7 linked regions of the Homo sapiens genome follow. The protein of the gene in region 4 purifies or fractionates together with the protein of the main gene of each other region. This does not show direct contact. Each region holds a gene or a part of one and is shown on either strand. Other genes may lie near its edges. The genes, in order: CSGALNACT2, ITPRIP, BACE2, TCTN2, PGAP6, KCNJ8 and ABHD14A.

Region 1 (3,500 bases), on a different chromosome or scaffold from region 4:
TCTTGAAACAACCAAAAACAAACAAACAACTTTTCCTGCCAACAAACCCAAAATATGAAACAATGATTTTCAAGATATTTAACATCAGGTAACAAAGGACAGTGATCCCCAGAGAAACAAGAAACAAGTGGTTGCCAGCTTACTGCCTTAGTTTCTGAGCCACACAAGGAGGGGAACCTAAGCAGAGCCCAGCAGATTCCCTGAGTTCATGGGATGCAGCTCATAGTCTGAAGAGACCAAGGTATCTAGGATTAAAGCATATAGTACCAGAGTGGATACAGCTGCACACAGAGAGAACTCCAGAAATCTGAATAGGATATCCCATGGGTATTTGGCAGAGCACTGATAAGTAAAGGCTTATGAGGCAACTAACGGGCTAAGGAAAGGACCACACACAAAATTAGAGGACACAGAACCCAGCATTCATACAGGGCCAGGATTAGTGCATGTTCCCAACAGACAGACTGGAAAACCTCAGAATTCCCAGGGCACTCGGTAGAGCACTCAAAAAAATCTTGTCTCAGTAGTGGGAAATAATTAGCTCTAGACTAAACATGGCACTAATCCTGCCAATACATCTTAAAAGCAAGACTTGAAAGGATCACATTATTTCCAAGTAATAGCACAACAAGCCTTAAGAATATTTATAAGAATACAGAAATATCCAGTACTCAACAAAATAAAATTCACAATATCTGGCATCTCAACAAAAATTACCAGGTATAAAAAAATATGATCCATAATGAAAAAAATCAACAATTAAAACTGACCAATGATTAGAACTGACAGATGTGGGAATCTGCAGAAAAAGGACACCAAAACAGCTATCATAACTGTATTTTTAAAATGATGTTTATGTTCAAAAATTTAAGTAGAGGTATGAATGACATAAAAGAGATCCAAGTTAAACTTCAGGAGATGAAAATTTCAGTGTCTGAGATGAAAAATACACTGAATGGGATTAATGGCAGATTAGATATTTTAGAAGAAAATATTAGTAAACTAGAGATGTAGCAAAAGAAACTATGCAACATACAGAAAGAAAAAAGAATCAAAAATATAAACAAAGCATTGATAAGCTCTGTGACAACTTCAAACAGCCTAATATACATGTAACTGGAGTCCCCAAAGAAGGGGGAAGGAGTCAGGAGAAATACTTAAACAAATAAGGCTGAAAATTTCCCAAATTTGATGGAAACTATAAACACACATAAGAAGCTCAACCAATCCCAAATAGCCATAAAGAAAATTATAGCAAGGTACATGATAATCAAATTGCTCAAATCCAATGTAAAGAGAAAATCTTTAAACTGGCCACATGAAAAATGCACATCACATACAAGGAACAAAAGATAATAATGACAGATTACTCTTTGAAAACTGAAAGTAATTAGACAGTGGAACAATGATCTTTAAAGAACTAAAAAGAAAAATATGCCAGCCTACAATTCTATACCCAGAGAAATTATCTTTGAAAAAGGCAAAATACTTTCTCTACATAAAAAGCTAAAGGAATTCATCACCATCATACCTGTACTGTAAGTCTTTTAGGCAGAGGAACATAATACCAGAAAGGAATATGGATTTATACAAAGCAATGAAAAACATCATTAATGTTAACGACATTGGTAACTAAGATTTTTGCTCATTATTATCTAAATCTCTTCAAAAGATAACTGAATAAAATGGACAAAATCCTAGAAAGATAGAAACTAACAAAACTGATTTAAGAAGAAATACCAGATATGAATAGACTTATATGACAAAAGATTGAATTAATAATAATAAAAAAACTACTCACAATGAAAAGTCCAGGCCAAGAGGCTTCACTGGTGGAATGTACCAAACATTTATTTATTATTACTATTATTTTTTTTGAGACAGAGTTTCGCTCTTGTTGCCCAGGCTGGAGTGCAATGGCGCGATCTCAGCTCACCGCAACCTCCGCCTCCCACGTTCAAGGGATTCTCCTGCCTCAGCCTGCCGAGTAGCTAGGATTACAGGCATGCACCACCACGCCTGGCTAATTCTGTATTTTTAGTAGAGATGGGGTTTCTCCATGTTGGTCAGGCTGGTCTTGAACTCTCGACCTCAGGTGATCCACCCGCCTCAGCCTCGAAAAGTGCTGGGATCACAGGCGTGAGCCACCACACCCAGCCTAGCAAACATTTAAATAAGAATTATTATTATTAAATAAGAATTATCTTCACAGACTCTTCCAAAAAATAGAAGAGGAAGCATTCTATAAGGTCAGTATCATCCTGCTACCAAATCCAGACATTAAAAGAAAACCATAGGCCAATATCCTATATGAATATAAATACAAAAATCCTCAACAAAATACTAGCAAAACGAACCCAGCAATATATAAGAGGAATCATACATCATGGCCAAATAAGATTTATCCCAGGACTGCAAGGTTGGTTTAACATCTGAAAATCAATTAATGCAATATACCATATCAATAGAAGACAAAATTCACTTGATCATCTCAACAGACATGGAAAAAGCATTTGACAAAATCCAACACCATTTCCTAATAAAAACCATTCAATAGGGGCTGGGTGCGGTGGCTCACACCTGTAATTCCAGCACTTTGGAAGGCCGAGGTGGGCAGATCCCACGAGGTCAGGAGATAGAGACCATCCTGGCTAGCACAATGAAACCCCGCCTCTACTAAAAATACAAAAAATTAGCCGGGTGTGGTGGTGGCATGCACCTGCAGTCCCAGCTACTCAGGAGGCTGAGTTAGGAGAATCACATGGACCTGGGAGGCGGAGGTTGCAGTGAGCCGAGATCACGCCACTGCACTGCAGCCTGGGCGACAAAGCGAGACTCCATCTCAAAAAACCAAACCAAACCAAACCAAACACCATTCAATAAACTAGAAGACACCTTCCTAATCTAAGAAAAGGGACCTACAAAAAACCCATAGCTAACATTGTATTTAATGATGAAAGACTGTATGCCTTCCCCCAAGATCAGGAATAAGACAAGGATGTCTGTTCTTGTCACTTCTATTTATATTGTACTAGAGGAGGTTGTAGCCAAGGCAATTAGGCAAGAAAATGAAATAAAAGGCATCCAGATTGAAAAGGAAGAAGTAAAACTATCCTTATTTGCAGATGATATGATCTGTATGCAGAAAATCCTAAGGAATTCACTAAAAATCTATTATAACTAATAAATGAGTTCAGCCAGTTGTAGGATACAATATCGATATACAAAAATCAATTGTATTTCTCTACATTAGCAACAAGCAATCTGAAAATGAAATTAAAAAAACAATCCTGTATACAATATGGCATCAAAAAGAATAAAATAGGAATAATGTTAACAAAAGAACTGCAAGACTTGTATTCATAGAAACTACAAAACATTGTTGGAAGAAAGTTAAGATTTAAATAAACAGAAAGACACCACACTCATGATTGGAAGGCTTAATATTGCTAAAATGGTAATATTCCCCAATTAATGTACAGATTAAACACAATCCTCTT
Region 2 (3,500 bases), on a different chromosome or scaffold from region 4:
GCTGGGGCATTCTTGAGCATCTCATAGAAGGAGTCCAGTGTCTTACGGTAAAGGCTTCGCTGCAGGACGAAGGGCCGGAAGAGGTTGAGGGGCTCGGCCCTGAGCACGGCCTCAGGGAGTCCCATGGCCTCAGGCACCTTGCGGTTGCCGATGAAGAAGTGGTGGAGCTTCTTCTGGAGCAAGCTCTTCTCCAGGAAGCACAGCAACTCGTGCAGACGAGCGTCCAGCTGCCCCGCCTTCCAGTCGGCGGCCTGCCGGAGGAGTAGGAGGTGCAGTAGGGCCGTCTTCAGGTGGTAGCTGCTGAGCCCGCTGGGACCGGTCAGGCGGCTCTGCTTGGAGAGCAGGAAGGATGCTATCTGCAGGCAGCTGAGGTGGCAGGCGCCCTCGGGCAGTGCCTTTAGTGTCGTCCTGAGGAAGTGTCGCTCATAGACAGCAAAGGACAGGAGCCAGTCTGTGCTGGAGGCTGGGGTGCCCTCAGAGGGCTCCCTGGGAAGGTGGGAGACAAAGTACAGGTCCGAGTCATCACACTGGATCACAGGAATCAGGTTGAAGGGCATGAACTTCCCTGAACGGAACTTGATCTTCAGGGACCCCGGGCTGTCCAGCTGGCCAAAGGCCAGGTCGAACTCGTACTTGTGGGCGATGCCCTTCCAGGCTCTGGTGAGGGCCGTCTGGAACCACTTCATGACCTGCATCGTGTCCAGGTACAGGGAATCTGTGGCACACAGCAGGTTCTCCATGTCGCCGCAGGGAGGCGCCATGCTGTTCCTGCCGTGCAGGAGACACAGCATGTCTTCCCCGAGCTTGGTCTTGCCGCAGATGCAGCTCAATGTGTCCCCATCGGCGCGGACCACCTTGATCTGGCCGTAGCCCTGGCGATCCAGGGGCACTGAGCGGCCGGAGCACCAGAGCTCTGGGTGGAAGCGGTAGGGCTCGGGGGGTGTGAAGGGCACGAAAAGGTGGCACAGCAGTGGCCTGTCCACCTGCCAGTTCTCGTACATGCTGTCCACGCCAATGAAGTCCTCCACCTCCATGTCGGTGTCCCGGTTGCAGAGGCTCCTCAGGGCTTCCAGCAAGTCATCCACGAAGCCTTCCAGGAACTCCCGGGTACGGGCTGCATCGGCCGTGGCCCCCCGGATGCAGCGCTCATAAAAGTGGCCAAGCGTGGCCTTGTTGGGCAGGGTGAGGCCCTGCAAGGGGGCGCCCCCCAGCCCAGGCAGCTCATCCTCCTCACCGCCCAGGCACTCAGGTGAGGGCCCCTCCTGGTGGTCCTGCCGCCACACCTCGATCATCAGGAAGAGGATCATGCAGAGGGTGCTCCAGAGGTCCCAGGCCACGCGTGTCTCGTTCTGCTGCCTGCCCTCCTCCGCCACCTGCTCCAGTGCCTCCTTTTCGGCCGCCAGCCGAGCCACCTCCTCCTCCAGGCGCAACTGCTCCAGCTGCAGCTTCTCCTGGTGCGCCTGCATCTTGCGGATGATCTCCTCCTCGTTCTCGGGGACTGTGGCGTTCTCCCGCGGGAACAGCAGCGGGTGGTTGATGATGGCCGTCACCACCACCAGACACACGCGGAAGAGCCCCATGGCCATGGTTGGAGCTTTCCTGGGAACAGAGAGACAGATGGTCACACCAAGCTTCCCTCAATGCCACTTCGTCCCTGGGCCCCGCACCAACCTCAGCCCCTCAGGGCTGGTTAAGGTCTTAGTTCTCCCACCCAACCCATCGAGAGCTCCCTGCGGCTGCCTCAGGAGCTTCAGTCCAGCCATGGAAGAGCCCCAAAGGCCTACCCTGGGGTGGACATCTGTTTTAGTCCTACCCAGACATTCCTGGATGGCAGCAGCACCCCACTGTCCCTAACCCTTTTCTCCTACCAGTCCTTATGGCCAGGGCGAGGATATACCCACCTCCAAGCTCCTGGGGTGGGCTCAAAACCCAGGCCCAAGACAATCAGACATTCTGCCGCCCAGCTACAGCTAGAGCGATTGGTTCTGGGATGAGCATTTGATCCAATTCGGGCCAATGAGAGACAGATGTAGGGTGTGTTGGGCCCAATAGGAAGAAAGACTCATCCTGTTGCTAGTTTGGTTGCTAGGTTGCTGAGGGAACAGGATTATACCTGCAGTGGGCTCTCGGGAAGGGAGCCCGCCTGAGAAAGACACCAACATAGAGGAAAGCAGAACCCCCCCTCCCCACACTCAGCTCTGCTTGAAGGCATTGCTGTCTGAGCTCTTTAGTCACACAAGTCAATAAAGAAACCCTTTTTAAGTCAGTTTGAGTGGCCTTTCCACCACTTGAAATCAAAATAGTCCTGAATAACATATCCCCTTCTCTCCCAAGTGAATGTCATCTTCCTGCAATACAGTGAAGCCTAGTGGTTAAGGGAGAAAGGGCTAGGTTCCAAACCAGCACTGTCAACTGAAAAGCTGTGTGACCCTGGGCATGTTAACACACCTCTCTGAGCCCTGGTTTCCTTACTGCACAAGGGGAAAGCAATAGTATCTCACAGGGTCATGGTATTGAGAGACGCAATGATCCCTGCAAACTGCATGGCCCAGTGACCAGTGCAAAGCACATATTCACTGAACAATAACTGTTTCGGAAGTAGATTTGAGCCCTTATCCTCCTCTTCTGTAAACGTCTCTTTCTGACCTGGAAGACCTTACCCCATATTCAGACACACTCTCCTGGCTTTTGTCTTTCCCCAGGACAATCTTGATGATGACCAGAGAGCAAAGAATCACTAATTTCTTCTTACCAGGCATGTGAACTTTAAATCTAACTTCTTAATTGTGAAAGGAGGCACTCTGTTCCCCTAGGATAAGTGGATTTTTAAGCCTCAAGTGACTTTTGGAGAAAGGCTAATCCCTACAATCTTTGCAATTCGAAGTATGATTCACGGACCAGCAGCTGCAGTATCTCCTGGGAGCTTGTTAGAAATGCAGAATCTCGGCCCCACCCACACTTACTGAATCGGAATCCACATTTTAATACCATCCATATAAAAATCTGAGAGGCACTGTCTTACGCTGCAAGACTTAGTTACACCCTCTCCTCTCCTCAGCAGGAATCCTGGGACTTAACAATCTGCTATTTCCACACTTGAACTACCCCCCTCCTTGCTTGGGACCTCGATGAAGGAAGCAAATGGCCAAATGCAAATCAGTTGAGGTCCTGAGATTGTTGAGAGCACAGGGCTCCTTCTACCACCCCCTAGTGCACACTAACACTGGCTGATAGGAGCTACTGTGCCAACCTGAGCCCCATTCCCTTTGGCTTGAGCCCGACCTGGAATTTGCACAATGAAATTCTTGTCCTAATGGTGCCAAGGAACAGGGATTTGTCCCCAGGTAAAGATACCTCTGCAGGTTGTCCCTGGCAAGTGGCAGGATGGAGATGGACTGAGTTGGCTGCTGGTCACGCCTAGACAAACTTGCTGCTCAGATGTGACTCAGACAGTTCCACCCCATACACAGCTGGACAGGTCTGCAGGAACCACAAGGGTT
Region 3 (3,500 bases), on a different chromosome or scaffold from region 4:
TATACGTCCAGATGGCCTGAAGCAAGTGAAGAATCACAAAAGAAGTGAAAATGGCCGGTTCCTGCCTTAACTGATGACATTCCACCACAAAAGAAGTGAAAATGGCCAGTCCCTGCCTTAACTGATGACATTACCTTGTGAAATTCCTTCTGGCTCATCCTGGCTCAAAGGCTCTCCCACTGAGCACCTTGTGACCCCCACCCTGGCCAGCCAGAGAACAACCCCCTTTGATTGTAATTTTCCACTACCTACCCAAATCTTATAAAGTGGACCCACCCCTGTCTCCCTTCACTGACTCTCTTTTCAGACTCAGCCCACCTGCACCCAGGTGAAATAAAAACCTTGTTGCTCAAACAAAGCCTGTTTTGTGGTCTCCTTACATGGACGCGCGTGACAAGAGGTACCTGCATATATGAGAATTGATGTTGGGATGTGATGGGTAATACGAACAGAAGTGCTAACAGGTTAGAATATAATGACATCCCCATGGTTTTTATAAAGCATTCTAAAAGTGCTATAGAAGACTGAGGCTCTCACAAGTCATCATAATCATAATGTCATAATGTGTCACGAACAAGCCAGAACTCAGTGAGAAGGCATGAACATGGTCCTGAGGTTTGGTGTCAGAGCTCTGTATGTGGCCACTTTAGCACTACCAAGCCACACACATCTATACAGCATGACCGTTTTTTAGGGAGAATTGGGTACTCTGGGGGCCAGGCTAGCTGTGAATGGAGGATAAAAGCTGATGATCTTTTCGGTTTCATTTTGCTTAATTTTCGTCCTTCTCTGTCCTACACTGATTAAAAATCTGTTTATTTCAACCTCTTAAACTGAGCTTAGGGACCATCAATCCAAGATGAATGAATGGTGAAAGGTGTAGCTCAGATAGTCCTCTTCACTCACCATTTAATGGTAATTTTGCCCTATGAAGATAAGTGGTTGGGAGGATGCAATATTTGGGGTGGGGAGGGAGGACAATTAATTGATTTCAACTTACTGTACAGCAAGGCCCTGCATCTTTTCATGTAATGAGCCTTTATCTTACGAGGTAATGTACCTTCTATTGGCATCTACGGGTTCCAGCTGGCATATTTAAGGGACCCAGACATACACAGAAAGACACAACAGAGACCATAGCATAAATACCTCTCTGCAGTCCAGATTAAGGCTTTGGCCTCCAATTTCCAATTTCAGAATTTCTATCTGGTAGTACCACTCTTCCTTAATAGGGGTATACCAGATGTCTCCTTTATACAAACTTGGTTCAATTCCACCCAAGACCTGGGACAGGAAATATTTACAGGTATAAGAGAAAAAATACACAGACATATCAACAGGTTACACAGAGAAGCATGCACTTGTAAAGAGAAACTTCACTGCAATCAGGGCTTCTACTTCGTGACAATGTCATGAAACAAATATCAATGCTTAAAAAATAAACAAGGAGCCAGGCGCGGTGGCTCACGCTTGTAATCCCAGCACTTTGGGAGGCTGAGGTGGGCGGATCATGAAGTCAGGAGTTCGAGAACGGCCTGGCTAGCATGGTGAAACCCCATCTCTACTAAAAATACAAAAATTAGCCGGGCAAGGTGGCGCGCACCTGTAGTCCCAGCTTCTCAGGAGGCTGAGGCAGGAGAATCGCTTGAACAGGGAGGCGGAGGCTGCAGTGAGCTGAGATCGCGTCACTGCACTCCAGCCTGGGCGACAGAGCGAGACTCCATCTAAAAAAAATAATAATAAATGAAATAAAATAAAATAAAATAAAACAAGGAATTTTATGGGTCCACGTCTGCAAAGGTCAGATGGTATTAGGCCCTCATCTAATCAAGATGCTTTGGAGGTTTCTCTTATCCAAAGAAAGTACATACAAGTTTAGCTTTACAATATTGAGATTTTTCCTTCAAAGAAATGCAATAAAACAGTTAACCACACTGACTGACAATTATTTAGTTCCTTGGAGGTCAGAGAACAGAAGATCAAGCACTTCCCTGATCAAAGCTTCATTGTGCAAAATCATAAAACATTTCCTCATAAATCCTATGCTGTCCTCTGCCTGGAAATGGTAGCAAATGAAAGTAGCTGAGGACCGGGGTGCAGATCCTGCCTCTCATAGTCAGACAGCAAAGGGACTGGCAGCACCCCCTTCTAGTGCATTCTTCCTGTCCCCTACTACTTTTGACGTCTGGGTGCCGGCCCCTGGAGGGAAGCTCAGGCTCCAGCACCTCCGTAGTGCTGACGGCCTTGATTCTGTTTCAGCAGCAAACACTTGTGCTGTGGTGCGTGTGTGCCTGTGTGTGTTGAGAGAGAGAGAGAGAGAAAGGATCTACAAGGGCCCCTGTTTCCCTGCCAAATTTATGAACTCTCCTTTGGCCCCCTACCCACAGTCAGGTCCACTCACCACGCCCCCCACCGCTCCTCACTTGTCCCTCCCCCACCCACAGAAAGCAGTGCCCTTCCAAGGGCGGTAAAGAAAAGTTTTAATGGAATTCGGAGAAGCGATGAGAATCATCCTTCCAGATGGCAGGATGACATAAAGGATTGCCTAATTTTAGCCATTTCTAAAAAGATCTACTACAAGGAGGATGAAAGTTTTACAGTACCTACGCACACCTACATGCCTAATATTTCTGCTCAGGTGTTTAATAAAACAGAAAAAAACAGCCCATCCATCTGTGATTTTTCGCCCCTTTAAGACTAAAAGATACCCACAAGACTACCTCCGTTGGTCCCAGATCCAGCAACGGGCAAGCCGGCTCCACACATCTGCATGGAGAAAACGTTGGGGATGTTTGCTTGTGTCACCAGGGAGTCGAAGAAGGTCTCCAGAGAACTTGATGGCTGCGGGAGGGCGACAGAGAGGGGCACCCGCTTAGGACTCACAGTGTAGACATGGGTCACCCAGTGTAGACGCCACGCGCCACAGACATTCCTGGTGTTTATACTCAATTTTTTCATGGTTCAACAGTACACCAGCTTGTGATTGGGTCTAGGAATTCAGAAAGCCCCAGCAGAGCTTCCCACTGGTTGGCATTCTTCCTTTGGGCACGGCTCTGTTGTACAAATAAGATCATATTTCTGGAAGCCATTCGACGCAGTCACATCTATCATCATGACTGCCTTGTGAGGGGGTGTGAGAAGCCGTGGAAGTAGGTTACCGTGGCAGGTGGTGGATCCTAATCTTAGGCATTTGAGAGTAAGGAGAGAAGAGTTTCTCTAGGAGCTGCCATGGCCGCAGACATCTTTGTTTGCCTGTCAGCCGCAGCTGTCCACCATGCAAATGAGAGGTGGCTGACCTGGGAGGACAGTATCCCCCGGACCCCAGAGCCTGGGGTGAGGCTTAGCTCTGCCAGATGAACTCTGGCAGGAAAGAAGCAGGAAAGGCACAAATCTATACTCCAGAAGCATAAAAGGCTTCTTATTCCCCCAAGGCCAGATTTCAGAAGCCCTCGTGTGCTCTGTGTCTCCCTCACATCCAGCAAGACATACAGAGGATGCCC
Region 4 (3,393 bases):
AGTCAGTATGAACTGGGCGCCTGTCACTTAAAACCGATGGAGGCAGGCTGGGCGCGGTGGCTCATGCCTGTAATCCCAGCACTTTGGGAGGCCGAGGCGGGCGGATCATGAGGTCAGGAGATTGAGACCATCCTGGCCAACAGGGTGAAACCCTGTCTTTACTAAAAATACAAAAATTAGCTGGACATGGTGGCACGTGCCTGTAATCCCAGCTACTCGGGAGGCTGAAGCAGGAGAATCGCTTGAACTAGAGAGTTGGAGGTTGCAGTGAGTCAAGATATTGCCACTGCACTCCAGCCTGGAGACGGAGCAAGACTCTGTCTCAAAAAAAAAAAAAAAAAAAACTGATGGAGGCTTGATACATAAAGGTATTATCACCATATTACAGAGGAGGAAACTACAGCTCAGAAAGGTTAAGTAATTGGCCAGTGTCACACAGCTCCTAAGTAGGACAGCCATGATTTGAACCTATCTGCTGCCAAAGTCTCTAACCACAGACAATATTCTCTGATCAGATTATCAGTTACATCCATGGATTTCAAAATATACTTAGTACTAAGGGGCCCTTTATTCATCTTTGTACTCCCTAAAATAACTTGCAGACTCTCTTACATATGGCTTTATAAATACTTGTGAGAATAAGTCTCCATTATACACATAGTTCGTACATATTCCATATGTGCATATAAACATCTTGCTAATAATTGCAAGTTGTAAATAAACAATCAGTTTCTAAATAAACATTTCCCTATTGTTTGGGATGCTCTCAACTTTCCTGACTCTCTCTAAACTACGGTGATCCAAGATGTGATCATACCTTGTCTCTACACCGAGTATCTCCTGCTGAGTAATCCCTTCCACCGCGCCAGCATCCGAGATGAGGATGCGGATGCTCAGGTGAGCAGGAATATCCAGGCACATGCCGTTCACACTGCTAGCCAGCGGGTCTGCACCTGGATCAGGGGCATCTACACCTATAGAAATGTTAAGTTATACACTTTTCAAAGAATAATTTGATAAGTTTTCCTACAATGTCGTAATAACCAAAATGGGGAATAATATCAGGCAGGCATCACATTAATGAGGCTTTAGTCTCTTACAGGCTCTAGTTACTTGTCACTCCATAACTGTGTTATCCCTTAAAGTCTACAAGGCATAGGATGGCACTAATAAAAATTGTGTTTAAAATGTTTCCTTGTATGGGCCGGGTGCGGTGGCTAACGCCGTAATCCCAGCACTTTGGGAGGCTGAGGCGGGCAGATCACGAGGTCAAGAGATCGAGACCATTCTGGCCAACATGGTGAAACCCCATCTCTACTAAAAGTATAAAAATTAGCTGGGCGTGGTGGTGCTCGCCTGTAGTCCCAGTTACTTGGGAGGCTGAGGCAGGAGAATGGCGTGAACCTGGGAGGCGGAGCTTGCCGTGAGCCAAGATCACACCACTGCACTGCAGCCTGGCGACAGAGGGAGACTCTGTCTCAAAAAAAAAAAAAAAAAAAAAGTTTCCTTGTATGTTAGCCAGTCACTGGAACTTAAAAGCCCTGACCCACATATTAAAGCCATAAATCATGATTCAGTTTCCAAGCTCCCACTGAAATCTACCCAGCCTTTTAACAGAAACATATATAATTGCAGTGAAATGCCATCGTTATTCCATGCAGTCACAGTTCTAGTAAAAGCTGTGTAAGACATTTAAAATCCATACTAACAACTTTAGGCCAGGCACAGTGGCTCATGCCTATAATCCTAGCACTTTGGGAGGTCAAGGTAGAAGCACTGCTTGAGCCCAGGAGTTTGAGACCAGCCTGGGCAACATAGCAAAACCCTGTCTCCTCGAGAAAAATAAAATAGCCAGTCATGGTGGCACACACCTGTAGCACACACCAGCTACCCAGAAGGCTGAGGTGAGAGGATTGCTTCAGCCTGGGAAGTCAAGGCTGCAGTAAGCCGTGATGGCATGGCACCACTACATTCCAGCCTGGACAAAAGTGAGAACCTCATCTCAAAAAATAAAAATAAAAATCAGTCGGGCGTGGTGGCTCACGCCTGTAATCCCAACACTTTGGGAGGCTGAGGTGGGTGGATGACCTGAGGTCAGGAGTTCGAGACCAGCCTGGCCAACATGGTGAAACCCTGTCTCTACTAAAAATACAAAAATTGGCCAGGTATGGTGGCGCACACCTGTAATCCCAGCTACTTGGGAGGCTGAGGCAGGAGAATCACTTGAAACCTGGGAGGTGGAGGTTGCAGTGAGCCGAGATCATGCCACTGCACTCCAGCAACAAAGTGAGACTCCATCTCAAAAAAAAAATAATGATAATAATTGAAAAAAAAATAATAATAAAACAAAATCCACACTAACGACTTTAATTAGTATGTATTAGATAGGTAAGTAATTTCCTAATGTGTTACCATAGTATTAATACAATTGGAAGAGAATGAAATTGAATGAGAAATGAATTTGCATTCGTCTTGGAGAAAACCCAGCAAGGTCAATTGGAGGAAGTAGGGTAGGTTCTATGGCTCCTCTGAAGGGGGTTCTTTGCTCCTTCAGGGATTCCGAAGGTCAGTAACACTGTTTTATGTCTAATTTCCTTATACATGTGTCAACACCACTTCTCTTCTGCTTATTAACCAGGATCAAGGTTGCTTTTTGGCTCAGACATGAAATAAAAGCTAACCCCTTCCACCTTGAAGGCAACAAAATGTCATCACCACACTGATTTCGTACCTCATCAACCTGGGTTCTCCGTCTGGACATTTTCCCTACCGTTTATTTCCCAACTGCTGACTTTTCTCCAGCCCTCAGGGTCATTCCACAGCCTATCTAGCTGGCCTGGGTGGCAGAGCCCAGGGCTTGACAAGCTCGACCTCTGGGTTCCGTTTGCAAATGAGGATCTAGGTCTGGGCCCAGTGCCTTGAGCACCAGCTAGATGAGCAAACAGCAGCCTGAGTGCCCCGTGGGGGTGGAGTCCAACAGGACTCCCTCCCCAAGTCAGAGAGTGGTCTGGGGCACCTCAAGCTCACAGACATATCACATTATCCATGACCAAGAGGGGGAAGGGAGGGTCCTCATCACCATGACCCCAATCACAAGGAGTAGGCACAATACAGGTGTGTGTCTGTATGGGCCGTTGTGTGAATTCCAGCCTACTGAGCCTAGCTGACCTCAGAGGAGATGGAAAGGGTAGGGACAGGATCCAGAGGGCTGATCCCTACCCACCAGGCAGAGGAGAGGGGCAGAGCAGCATCTGCAGGGAGAGCTGGGCAGGGGCAAAGCAGATGCGCACACTCATTGGGCTCTTTCTGGTCCCAAAAGGCAATTCCATTAATTAGCTCAATAAAAAAAGCTTTCCATTCAAAGTATTTACAGACTCAAGGCTCCCCAAGAAA
Region 5 (3,500 bases), on a different chromosome or scaffold from region 4:
ACGGGGGGCTGGGGGTGAGAGCCTGAGTCCTCGCCTGGGGCCATGAGCAGGATGTCTCCCACGGGCCCTTCTCCATCCCCGCACCAGGCGTGGGTGCGTTCCCTGAGGACAGTTAGGAGCCTTGCCCGCTTGGAACGCAGAGGGCAGCTGTCCCCTTGTTCTCATGACTGGCCAGGCTTCTGGCCTGGGTCCCTCCCACATGCAGTATCTCCCTCTGGGTAAGGGGAATTTGGGCTCCGGTCTCGCCGTGTCCAAAGTCATCATAGCCCAAGCAGGCAGCCAACCCATCCAGGGATGGAGATGTGGGAGGCTGAGAGGAGGTGGGAGGACCGTGCCTTGATATCCAGGGCATCTGTGATGAGGGGCGGGGGCTCCTTCCTGACACCTGCTGGGTCCTTCGGCTTCGACCTGGGTTGGCCATGGGGAGTGTAGTCTTCTAAGGTTGGAGGGGGTCCGGGTGGCAGTGCGGGTGGGGATGGCAGTCAGAGTGGCGATGGCAGTGCGGGTGGCGATGGCAGTGTGGGTGGCGATGGCAGTGCGGGTGGGGATGGCAGTGTGGGTGGCGATGGCAGTGCGGGTGGCGATGGCAGTCAGGGTGGCGATGGCAGTGCGGGTGGGGATGGCAGTCAGAGTGGCGATGGCAGTGCGGGTGGCGATGGCAGTGCGGGTGGCGATGGCAGTGCGGGTGGCGATGGCAGTGTGGGTGGGGATGGCAGTGCGGGTGGGGATGGCAGTGCGGGTGGCGATGGCAGTCAGGGTGGCGATGGCAGTCAGGGTGGCGATGGCAGTGCGGGTGGGGATGGCAGTGCGGGTGGCGATGGCAGTCAGGGTGGCGATGGCTGCTGAGGTACCCTGCGGCTTGTTTGGAAGCTGCTGCAGTGAGGCGGCAGCTGTGAAAAGACCCAGATGCCAGGAGGGTGGGATGTAGGCCATCTGGGGAGGGACAGCAGAGGATCTGGCTGAGGGGCCAGAGGGTGTCGGTGACCTTTGCCAAGGTCAGAGTTGGTGTGCCAAGATCTCCAGGTGGGTCCCCGGGGGCTTCCAGCCCTTTCCATCTGGGGGACTCGTCCTCCCCATCTGCGGCCCTGGAGGAGGGTCCCGGCCTGGCTGACACCTCCTTCTCCTCACAGAGGTGGGGCTGGTGTCCGAGCACTTCTCGCAGGCCCCGCAGAGGCTGTCCTTCTACAGCTGGTACGGCAGTGCCAGGCTCTTCCGCTTCCGCGTGCCCCCAGATGCTGTGCTTCTACGCTGGCTCCTGCAGGTCTCCCGGGAGAGCGGCGCTGCCTGCACCGACGCGGAGATCACCGTGTAGGTGGCTGCCCGCCCGCCTGCCCACCCTCCCGCGCCTGGCCAAGCCCTGTGCCTGAACCCGGTGCTGCTCTCCCGTCTCCAGGCACTTCCGTTCCGGCGCCCCTCCGGTCATCAACCCGCTGGGCACCAGCTTCCCGGACGACACCGCGGTACAGCCCTCCTTCCAGGTCGGGGTGCCGCTGAGCACCACACCGAGAAGCAATGCCTCCGTCAACGTTTCCCACCCGGCCCCCGGGGACTGGTTCGTGGCCGCCCACCTGCCCCCCTCATCCCAGAAGATCGAGTTGAAGGTGAGGGGGGCTGCCCTCCGGGATGGAGGCAGAGAACCTTGCGGCGATGGCCTGTCCCTGCCGTTCACCTCTTTGGGGTGGTCCTCGCTCTAGGCTCCACGCTGCACTCTGGGGCCAGCCCTGCTCCCTGCATGCCGGGGGCGTCTGGTGAGACCATGCCCTCACACCTGCATTCTCTGACACCGCCCCCGCCCACACCTGTTCTTTCCCTAGGGCTTGGCTCCCACCTGTGCCTACGTCTTCCAGCCTGAACTGCTGGTCACGCGGGTGGTCGAGATTTCCATCATGGAGCCGGACGTGCCCCTTCCTCAGACCCTCCTCTCCCATCCCAGCTACCTCAAGTGAGCGGGGGCCTGGGGGGCAGCCCGGCTCTGCCCTCCGGCCCCTTCTCAGATTCGGTGGAGTGGGTGCGAGAGCCTGGCCCTGAGTCCTGGGGTTGGGCTGGGAAGTGGTCCAGATGCCTGGCCCCCACCAGAGTGGGCTGAGGAACAGCAGAGCCTGGGCACGCTGCGTCCCTGGGCTGAGGAATGGCAGAGCCTGAGCCAGCTGTGTCCCCTCGCTGCAGGGTCTTTGTCCCCGATTACACGCGGGAGCTTCTGCTGGAGCTGCGGGACTGCGTGTCCAATGGGAGCCTGGGCTGCCCCGTGCGTCTCACCGTGGGCCCGGTCACCCTGCCTAGCAACTTCCAGAAGGTGCTCACCTGCACCGGTGCCCCCTGGCCCTGCCGCCTGCTGCTGCCCTCACCGCCCTGGGACCGGTGGCTGCAAGTGACAGCTGAGAGCCTGGTGGGGCCCCTCGGGACAGTGGCTTTCAGTGCTGTAGCTGCCCTCACAGGTGGGCCGCACAAGGGCTGGAGGGATGGCCCTGCCCCTCCCCAGATCCCCAGACTTTCCTCCAGCCAAACCCCTTGTCCTCTCGGCAGCTTGCAGGCCACGGAGCGTGACCATCCAGCCCCTTCTGCAGAGCAGCCAAAACCAGAGCTTCAATGCCTCCTCTGGTCTGCTGTCCCCGAGCCCCGACCACCAGGACCTGGGCAGGAGTGGCAGGGTGGACCGCAGCCCCTTCTGCCTCACAAACTACCCAGTCACGCGGGAGGACATGGACGTGGTGTCGGTGCACTTCCAGCCCCTGGACAGGGTCTCGGTGAGGGTGTGTTCGGACACGCCCTCCGTGATGCGGCTGCGCCTGAACACCGGCATGGACAGCGGGGGTTCCCTCACCATCTCCCTGCGGGCCAACAAGGTACCTGCTGTCTGCAAGCGGCCTGTGGCCTGGGCTCGGGCAGGGCGCCGGGCAACCCCTGCAGCGCCTCCTCATTTACCTTGGCACGGGACAGGCGGCACAGTGACACCAGCAGGCACGGGCCAAGACAGGGGCCCATGTTGGGGGGCCTCCCCTGCTGGGCAGCCTTGTTCCTGTCAACAGGCCCCGGGGCTGTGGGGTAGCTCGGGTCAGAGGTGGGGTGGAGGCAGGATGTCCCAGGGCCCGGGGAGGAAGGTCCCGGTGCACCGTGGGCCTGCAGGAGTCTCAGAGAAAGGCACCAGCACCGGCCGGGCGCGGTGGCTCACGCCTGTAATCCCAGCACTTTGGGAGGCCGAGGAGGGTGGATCACGAGGTCAGGAGATTGGGACCATCCTGGCTAACACGGTGAAACCCCGTCTCTACTGAAAATACAAAAATTAGCCGGGCGTGGTGGCGGGCGCCTGTAGTCCCAGCTACTCGGGAGGCTGAGGCGGGAGAATGGCATGAACCCAGGGGCGGAGGTTGCAGTGAGCCGAGATCGCGGCACTGCCCTCCAGCCTGGGCGACAGAGCAAGACTCCATCTCAGAAAAAAAAAAAAAAAGAAAGGCACCAGCACCAGGCTGAGCTGGCACGTGGGGCAGATGACCCCACTGCGG
Region 6 (3,500 bases), about 100 Mb from region 4:
AAAAAAAAAGCTTATAGGATTTTTATGGTATGTCAGGCTTAGATTGAAAAACCAAGAGGACATTTTAAAACCTGAAATAAAATCAAAACAAAGCAAAAAAAAGCTAGTTTTGGAGCAAACAGACTTGAGAGAGAGGAATCTCAGAGTGAGTGTTATCACTTTGACATCTCTTTTACATGGCTCTAAAAACATCTTGAGTTTTAACTTGGGATGATTTTGTGAAAGAGGAATCACAAAACTACAGTGAGTACAAAGAAAATGTTTTAATAAAATATTCAATACAGTATTTCCCTGTGGGGATTCTAGAAGAAGAAGTGAGATGCTGAAGGAAGTGACTGTCACTGTGGGGAACCCAGTCCTAAATGAGACAAGACTTAGCTTTCCTTCAAAGACACCTTGTCCAGCTCTGCCCAACAGGCCGCAATGAGATGGACCAGGAAACCTTCAGGAGTCACCGACAGACAAAGCGAATGAACTGAATCCACTTACAAACAGATCCACTTAAGCAGTTTTTGCCTCAGGCTTCCTACCAAATGCAGTTATCATGGAGACAGGAGAAGGCTGATGTACAAAACGCATTAACATGATTTTGTTTTTTCCCCTCCTATTCTATTTGCATTTCCAGAGTGATCATTAGTAACACAGCGATCTGGGTTTCACCAACTAAGCATTTCAAACAGACTCATTTCTTGACCAAATTTTGTGCTCAAGGCCTGTTACTATTAGTGTAATTCTTGTGTTTCAAATTGAGAGAAACGAGCATACCCACCCCTGCACATAACTTAAGTATATCACTGCGAATTCTACATGTATGAAACAAGCATAAGCCATGAATCCTCCACTTGGTGTGTTACTTTTTATTACTACAGAAAGTGCTGTTGCTTGAATATGAATATCATTTAGTGTAATAAAATGTAGAAGGACACATTATTGTGTTCCAGCTCTGGTTCAGTCTGGCAGTGCCCAGCATAAACCGTCAAAACTTGATAAAAGACTGTCTTGGGGTTATCTTGCTGTCATGATTCCGATGTGTTTTGATTTCCTTCTGGAGTCATAAATTGCACCTTTGGTACCATGAGGGAAGAATTGTTCCTTCGGATAGAATTGTTCCTCCTCATGGAATTGTTTCTTCTCATGGAGTTGCGCTTCCTCAGAGAATTTTGATGAGACAGTTCACTCTTTTGGAGGGTCTGAATAAGGATGGAAGGTTTCTCATCCAGCTCTCGGGCACTGCACCGTGGAGCAGCTACTTTAACAGTGTTGCCAAATTTGGAGTAATCCACAGAATACACTCCTTCTTCCTCAGTCACAATGGACACAAAGCGGTGGCCCCATTGGATCTCCTCAGCAATGTAGGAGGTTCGTGCTTGTGTGGTGATGCCAGTAGTTTCAACCACTCCTTCCAGAATAACTATGACCTCCAAGTCTTGGTTGGCCAGGTCAGTTGCTGAGATGTCATACAGGGGACTGCGCTTGTCAATCACGTGGCAGATGATCAAAGGGGCCACCAGAAAAATGTTATTGCTCTCGATTGGGTTATCAACAGGAATGTCCAGTTGGTGAATAGGAACCACCTCCCCTTCAGGTGTAGTTGTTTTCTTGACCACCTGGATGCGCACAGAGGCACTAATGATCATGCTTTTCCTCAGGTCACCCACTCGGAACATGAAGCACAGCTTGCCATTTCGGACGGCAATCACAGCATGGCGGCTGAAAATCAAAGTTTCTGCCCTTCTGTGAGCCTGAGCTGTTTTCATGAAAATGCAGCCTAACATGACTGCATTGATGATCAAACCCACAATATTCTGGAGAATCAAAACCGTGATGGCCAAAGGGCATTCCTCTGTCATCATCCTCCCTCCAAACCCAATGGTAACTTGAACTTCAATGGAGAAGAGAAAAGCAGAAGTGAAAGACCTGTGAGGAATGATATCAGAAAAGAACACCATCAGGTCACATTTTGAATAATGAAATATGCCAAGCTGAGCTTTTCATTTTCTTCCACCAAAGACTATTAAATGCTTGCAGAAAGACTAGCCAACTTAAACTTGTAAAATGCCTAATTCTAAACTGTGTTTAGAACAGTCTCTCTCTCTCTTGCATGCATCTACCTCCAGACTTCTGGAGATTAACATTCTATTAATTAAGTTCCCTTAAGCTAAGGCCTAATTCTATTAACATTCTATTAATGTTTCATAGGTCACATAGTGATGGGCCTAATTTGTGTAAAAGATTAATATATTTTCATATATATGCATATTTTACCTTGCGAAATACTTCACTTTCACAAAGGCACAGTTTACTTTGTAAAACTTTCTACCAGGTAGATGTTTATTATTTATTGCGTATCTATGTTTAGGAGACTTGAGTCATATGGAAGGTACTGAGTACTGAGTGAATTTATTATTTATAATCTTTAAAATCATATTCATTAGCTAATACTTATTTTGTGTCTCATATAGAAATAGCACAGTGCTAAAAAAACTAGTATAAAACACATTATTCCAAACAACTAGTATTTTTAATAGAAGGGAGTTGTTTTCCATTTGGAAAGAAAAGTGTCTTATTGATGATCTAATTTTGTTAAGTCAGGGGTCCCCAACCCCCCCCCCCCCCACCTCCAGGCCAGGGACCAGTGCTGGTCCATGGCTTGTCAGGAACTAGGCCACACAGCAGGAGGTGAGTAGTGGGTAAGCCAGCATTACCGCCAGAGCTCTGCCTCCAGTCAGGTTAGTGGAGGCACTGGATTCTCATGGTATAGTGAACCTTATTGTGAATTGCACATGTGGGAGATATAGGTTATCCCTCCTTATGAGAATCTAATGCCTCATGATCTGAGGTGGGACAGTTTTATCCCCACACCATCCCCATCCCCCACCCCCATCAGTGGAAAAATTGGCGTTCCGCAAAACCAGTCCCTGGCTCCAAAAAGGTTGGGGAGCACTACTCTAGGTGTTCTGGAGAATACTGAAATGATTAAAGGGAGAACTAGGGGCAGAAACTAGTAAATGACTGTGTCAAGGTCACATACAGATATGCCTTATTTTATTCTTCTCTGCTGTAATGTATTTTGCAGATACTGCATTTTTATAAATTGAAGGTCTGTGGCAACCTTCATCCAGCCAGTCTATTATCACAATTTTTTCAAAACGTGCTCACTTTGTGTCTGTGTGTCACATTTTGGTAATTCTCACAAAATTTCAAACTTTTTCATTATTATTACATCAGTTACCATGATGTGTGATTAGTGATATTTGATGTCATTATTGTAATTGTTTAGGGCAGCAGTCCCCAGCCTTTTTGGCAACAGGGACTGGTTTTGTAGAAGACAATACTGGGGGGTGTGTGTGGGGGGAAATGGTTTCGAGATGAAACTGTTCCACCTCAGATCATCAGGAATTAGATTCTTACAAGGAGCCCGCAGCCTAGATCCCTCACCTTCGCAGTTCACCGTAGGGTTCACACTCCTATGAGAATCTAATGCCCCCACTGATGTGACA
Region 7 (3,633 bases), on a different chromosome or scaffold from region 4:
AGTCAGGATGGTCTCGATCTCCTGACCTCGTGATCCGCCTGCCTCGGCCTCCCAAAGTGCTGGGATTACAGGTGTGAGCCACTGCGCCCGGCCAATGCTGGCTAATTGTTAAATCGCGTTCCCCATACCCTCTAGGTTCCTGACTTCCTTGGCTTGGCTGTCCAGACCCTGGATTTCCCACCAATCCCTGTGGTCATGCAGCAGCAGTAATACACCCCGCCTCCCACCAGCAATTCCCCAGCCTTATGTGGCCAAGTACTCAGTTATCCAGACTCATTCAGTCCTATAACCACCCTCCAACCTAGGTGTTGCCATCATACCCGTTTTACAGATAAGGAAACTCAGGCACAGAGTGGTGAGGCCAGGCACTTAGGAAGTGGCGCATTCTTAGCCTTCTCAGACTGCTGGACATCCCCTCCAGCTCCCAGGCCCAAAGTAGTCCCAGACTTGCCTCCCACTCCCGTCTTTCCCACAGCACACCAGGAAACGGAACCTGTCACTTCCCAGGCAGGACAAATATGCTTTTTTATTGTGTCTGTGAGATGAAATGAGGAGTCCTGGCTGGGTCTGACCCTGGCCTCTGGCCTCCAATCCCAGAGGCTGTCTCCCTGGTTCAGGGAGGGTGGCGGTCCAGACTGTCCAAGCTCATGCCAGGCTGGGAGCTGGGAGTGGGTTAGTTCAAGGTAGATGGTCAAGGAAGGCAAGCAGGACAAGGTGGAAGTCTTGCGGCTTGTGGAGGTAACAGGCATGGCCTGCATTGCGTAGCTTCACCACAGAGTGGTTGGGCAGGTGGCGGAGCTGCCGCAGTGACTCTCGAGCCAGGATGTGGTCCAGCTCTCCATACAGGATAAGGGTTGGAGTCTGCAGGGCAAGGCAGGGGGCTGTGATCTTGGGGCCTGATGAGTTTCTGACCCCCAAGCCACTTCCTAGGAAGCCTTCCCCAACACCATCCAACTCTTCCATCCAAGGTCAGGGATAAGGCCATGTCCCTCCAAGTAAGACTTGAGTCCTGAACCCCCCCAAGCCACAGACAGGGTGCCAGGACCTTTGAGATCCTTCTCCCAGTACCTTCACAGCCCAGAATTGCTCCTGGGTGTAGTTCTGGGTGGAGGTGGGTGCGATGGGCACAAATCCATGTAGCTGGTGGTGGCCTCGCATCAGGAAGGGCAGGGCATAGTGGCCACTCAGCGAGGGGCTCACCAACACGGCATTCTGTACCTCCAGGTCCCGCAGCGCCCGCTCCAGCAGCGCTGCCCGCCCTGCCTCTGTGCTTGCCTCCTTTGAAGGTGCCGAGTTCCCAAAACCTAGGAACAGCAGCAGGTACCAGCTGAGGGGCACTGGGAAGGGGCACAGGACTTCCTGCCCACCACAGTGGGGGAAAAAGTTGGGGACCACTGGCACTGGCACACACTACCTAAAACTGCCCAGAAGCTATTTTCTGGTAATGTAATATGCCTGTTAGAAAAGCATATCTTGGCCGAGAGTGGTGGCTCACGCCTGTAATCCCAGCACTTTGGGAGGCCGAGGCGGGCAGATCACGAGGTTAGGAGATCGAGACCATCCTGGCTAACACGGTGAAACTCCGTCTCTACTAAAAATACAAAAAATTAGCCAGGCGAGGTGGCGGGCACCTGTAGTCCCAGCTACGCAGGAGGCTGAGGCAGGAGAATGGCATGAACCCCGGGGGGCGGAGCCTGCAGTGAGCCGAGATCATGCCACTGCACTCTAGCCTGGGCGACTGCGAGACTCTGTCTAAAAAAAAAATAAAATAAAATAAAAAATAAATAATACCCAGTGTTGGGGGAGACATGGGGAAATGGGCACTTTCATACATGACAGATGGGAAGATAAATCCATATAGTGTTTTTGGAGGGTGAGATAGTAGTTATCTAAATTTAAAAATGCATGTCCTGGCAGCTGGGCGCGGTGGCTCATGCCTGTAATCCCAGCACTTTGGGAGGCCGAGGTGGCGGATCATGAGGTCAGGAGTTTGAGACCAGCCTGACCAACATGGTGAAACCCTGTCTCTACTAAAAATACAAAAATTAGCCAGGCATGGTGGGGCGCACCTGTAATCCCAGCTACTCAGGAGACTGAGGCAGGAGAATCGCTTGAACCCAGAAGGCGGAGGTTGCAGTGAGCCGAGTACGAGCCACTGCACTCCAGCCAGGGTGACAGAGCGAGGCTCTGTCTCAAAAAAAAAAAAAACAAAAAACAAAAAAAGAAACAAACAAAAAAAAAACAAAACACAACACATCCTTTGGCCCATCAATTGTCCTCAGTAGCTACCCTAGAGAAATTATTGCTCACATGCTCAAAGAAGCATGCCCAAGGATGCTTTAGCTACTATATTGCTTGAGCACTCCGCCAGTAGAGGAATGGCTGAATAAAGCCTGTCCATCCCTCCTATGGGACACACTGCAGGGTTGACAACAAAGAGGGAGGTTTGTAGGGACCGGCATGATCCTTGAGACATGATGTAGGGGGAGAAAACCAAGCTACAGATGGATGTGCTAAGCAGACAGGATACCAATCATGTTTACAGCCCCCACTAGACAATCCTCTACATCGTCTGCATCTTTACATGTGGGAATACCCAGAACAGCGTGTGGCATCCCCTAAACTTCTTAGAGAGGGAGAGAAATGCGGCACCAGTCTCTCAGAGCTTTGCTATTTTTTAGTATTTTTTAATCCTCTATGACTCGACATTTTTTCATTTTTTTAATGACAAGAATGATAGCATAAATCATTTGTGTACTTAAAAACACAAAACCTATATGGTTTGCCATAGAAAGTACACTGCTTGGCCGGGCGCAGTGGCTCACACCTGTAATCCCAGCACTTGGGGAGGCCGAGGCAGGCGAATCACCTGAGGTCGGGAGTTCAGGACCAGCCTGGCCAGCATGGTGAAACCCTATCTCCACTAAAAATACAAAAATTAGCCAGGCGTGGTGGCAGTCACCTGTAATCTCAGCTACTGGGGAAGCGGAGGCAGGAGAATTGCTTGAACCCGGGAGGCGGAGGTTGCAGTGAGCCGAGATTGTGCCATTGTACTCTAGCCTGGGTGACAGAGCGAGACTCTGTTTCAAAAAATATATATAAATAAAATAAAAAAAAAGAAAGTATACTGCTTGTGAAGAGTTTTTATTTGCTCCATGACCTAGAATTCACACTGTAGTTTTCATAGTAGAAAATGAAAACACAGACTTTTTCATGGTGCCACCTTATGTTGTGACCTGCCACGGCCTGTCCAGACCCTAGGGTCCAGTTGCCTCCCAGCCACACTTAAGGCTTCCCTAGACAAAGGGGTGGGGGTGCTCACCTGGAAGGTCAAGGGCCACGGCCCGGTAGCCCCTCTGTGACAGTAGCTGCAGTGTGCCCAGCTGCTCCCACGTGTGAGAGTTAAAGGCCTTTCCATGAAGCAGCACCACCTCCACCCTGCAGGCACACAGGGGAATGTGTTTGCTGGGAACCTGGTGTAGCCCACCTTTCTTTATTCCTAGGCTTCTCCCATTGCCCTCCCAGGACCTGAGCACCCTGAGTATAATGGGGGTCCCACACAGGGACTCCCCTTGAGCCTAGTCCCTCCACTAGACCCTTGGAGCAGCACCTACCTGTGTGCCTGGTTGAGTG

What was found.
Region 1: the proteins of TCTN2 (region 4) and CSGALNACT2 purify together in Homo sapiens (affinity purification with mass spectrometry; 2 studies listed by BioGRID and IntAct, with this or other methods). This does not show direct contact.
Region 2: the proteins of TCTN2 (region 4) and ITPRIP purify together in Homo sapiens (affinity purification with mass spectrometry; 2 studies listed by BioGRID and IntAct, with this or other methods). This does not show direct contact.
Region 3: the proteins of TCTN2 (region 4) and BACE2 purify together in Homo sapiens (affinity purification with mass spectrometry; 2 studies listed by BioGRID and IntAct, with this or other methods). This does not show direct contact.
Region 5: the proteins of TCTN2 (region 4) and PGAP6 purify together in Homo sapiens (affinity purification with mass spectrometry; 2 studies listed by BioGRID and IntAct, with this or other methods). This does not show direct contact.
Region 6: the proteins of TCTN2 (region 4) and KCNJ8 purify together in Homo sapiens (affinity purification with mass spectrometry; 2 studies listed by BioGRID and IntAct, with this or other methods). This does not show direct contact.
Region 7: the proteins of TCTN2 (region 4) and ABHD14A purify together in Homo sapiens (affinity purification with mass spectrometry; 2 studies listed by BioGRID and IntAct, with this or other methods). This does not show direct contact.

What each region holds. Positions count from the first base shown.
Region 1 is NC_000010.11:43,148,445-43,151,944, reverse strand, and holds part of CSGALNACT2 (chondroitin sulfate N-acetylgalactosaminyltransferase 2), read right to left. Parts: intron 2,159-3,500; exon of another isoform or gene 1,802-2,158; intron 1-1,801. UniProt on the Homo sapiens protein: Transfers 1,4-N-acetylgalactosamine (GalNAc) from UDP-GalNAc to the non-reducing end of glucuronic acid (GlcUA). Required for addition of the first GalNAc to the core tetrasaccharide linker and for elongation of chondroitin chains.
Region 2 is NC_000010.11:104,314,466-104,317,965, forward strand, and holds part of ITPRIP (inositol 1,4,5-trisphosphate receptor-interacting protein precursor), read right to left. Parts: intron 1,600-3,500; coding exon of another isoform or gene 1,587-1,599; coding exon 1-1,586. UniProt on the Homo sapiens protein: Enhances Ca(2+)-mediated inhibition of inositol 1,4,5-triphosphate receptor (ITPR) Ca(2+) release.
Region 3 is NC_000021.9:41,241,160-41,244,659, reverse strand, and holds part of BACE2 (beta-secretase 2 isoform A preproprotein), read right to left. Parts: intron 2,842-3,500; coding exon 2,713-2,841; intron 1,285-2,712; coding exon 1,150-1,284; intron 1-1,149. UniProt on the Homo sapiens protein: Responsible for the proteolytic processing of the amyloid precursor protein (APP).
Region 4 is NC_000012.12:123,702,113-123,705,505, reverse strand, and holds part of TCTN2 (tectonic-2 isoform 1 precursor), read right to left. Parts: intron 975-3,393; coding exon 818-974; intron 1-817.
Region 5 is NC_000016.10:375,479-378,978, reverse strand, and holds part of PGAP6 (post-GPI attachment to proteins factor 6 precursor), read left to right. Parts: intron 1-1,130; coding exon 1,131-1,308; intron 1,309-1,393; coding exon 1,394-1,601; intron 1,602-1,814; coding exon 1,815-1,942; intron 1,943-2,166; coding exon 2,167-2,435; intron 2,436-2,523; coding exon 2,524-2,843; intron 2,844-3,500. UniProt on the Homo sapiens protein: Involved in the lipid remodeling steps of GPI-anchor maturation. Lipid remodeling steps consist in the generation of 2 saturated fatty chains at the sn-2 position of GPI-anchor proteins (GPI-AP).
Region 6 is NC_000012.12:21,764,707-21,768,206, forward strand, and holds the end of KCNJ8 (ATP-sensitive inward rectifier potassium channel 8), read right to left. Parts: intron 1,918-3,500; coding exon 1,017-1,917; 3' UTR 249-1,016; downstream 1-248. UniProt on the Homo sapiens protein: Inward rectifier potassium channels are characterized by a greater tendency to allow potassium to flow into the cell rather than out of it.
Region 7 is NC_000003.12:51,978,064-51,981,696, reverse strand, and holds the end of ABHD14A (protein ABHD14A), read right to left. Parts: coding exon 3,615-3,633; intron 3,439-3,614; coding exon 3,323-3,438; intron 1,305-3,322; coding exon 1,069-1,304; intron 862-1,068; coding exon 679-861; 3' UTR 501-678; downstream 1-500. Other genes in the region: ABHD14A-ACY1 readthrough (NMD candidate), read right to left, coding at 3,323-3,438, 3,615-3,633. UniProt on the Homo sapiens protein: Possible role in granule neuron development.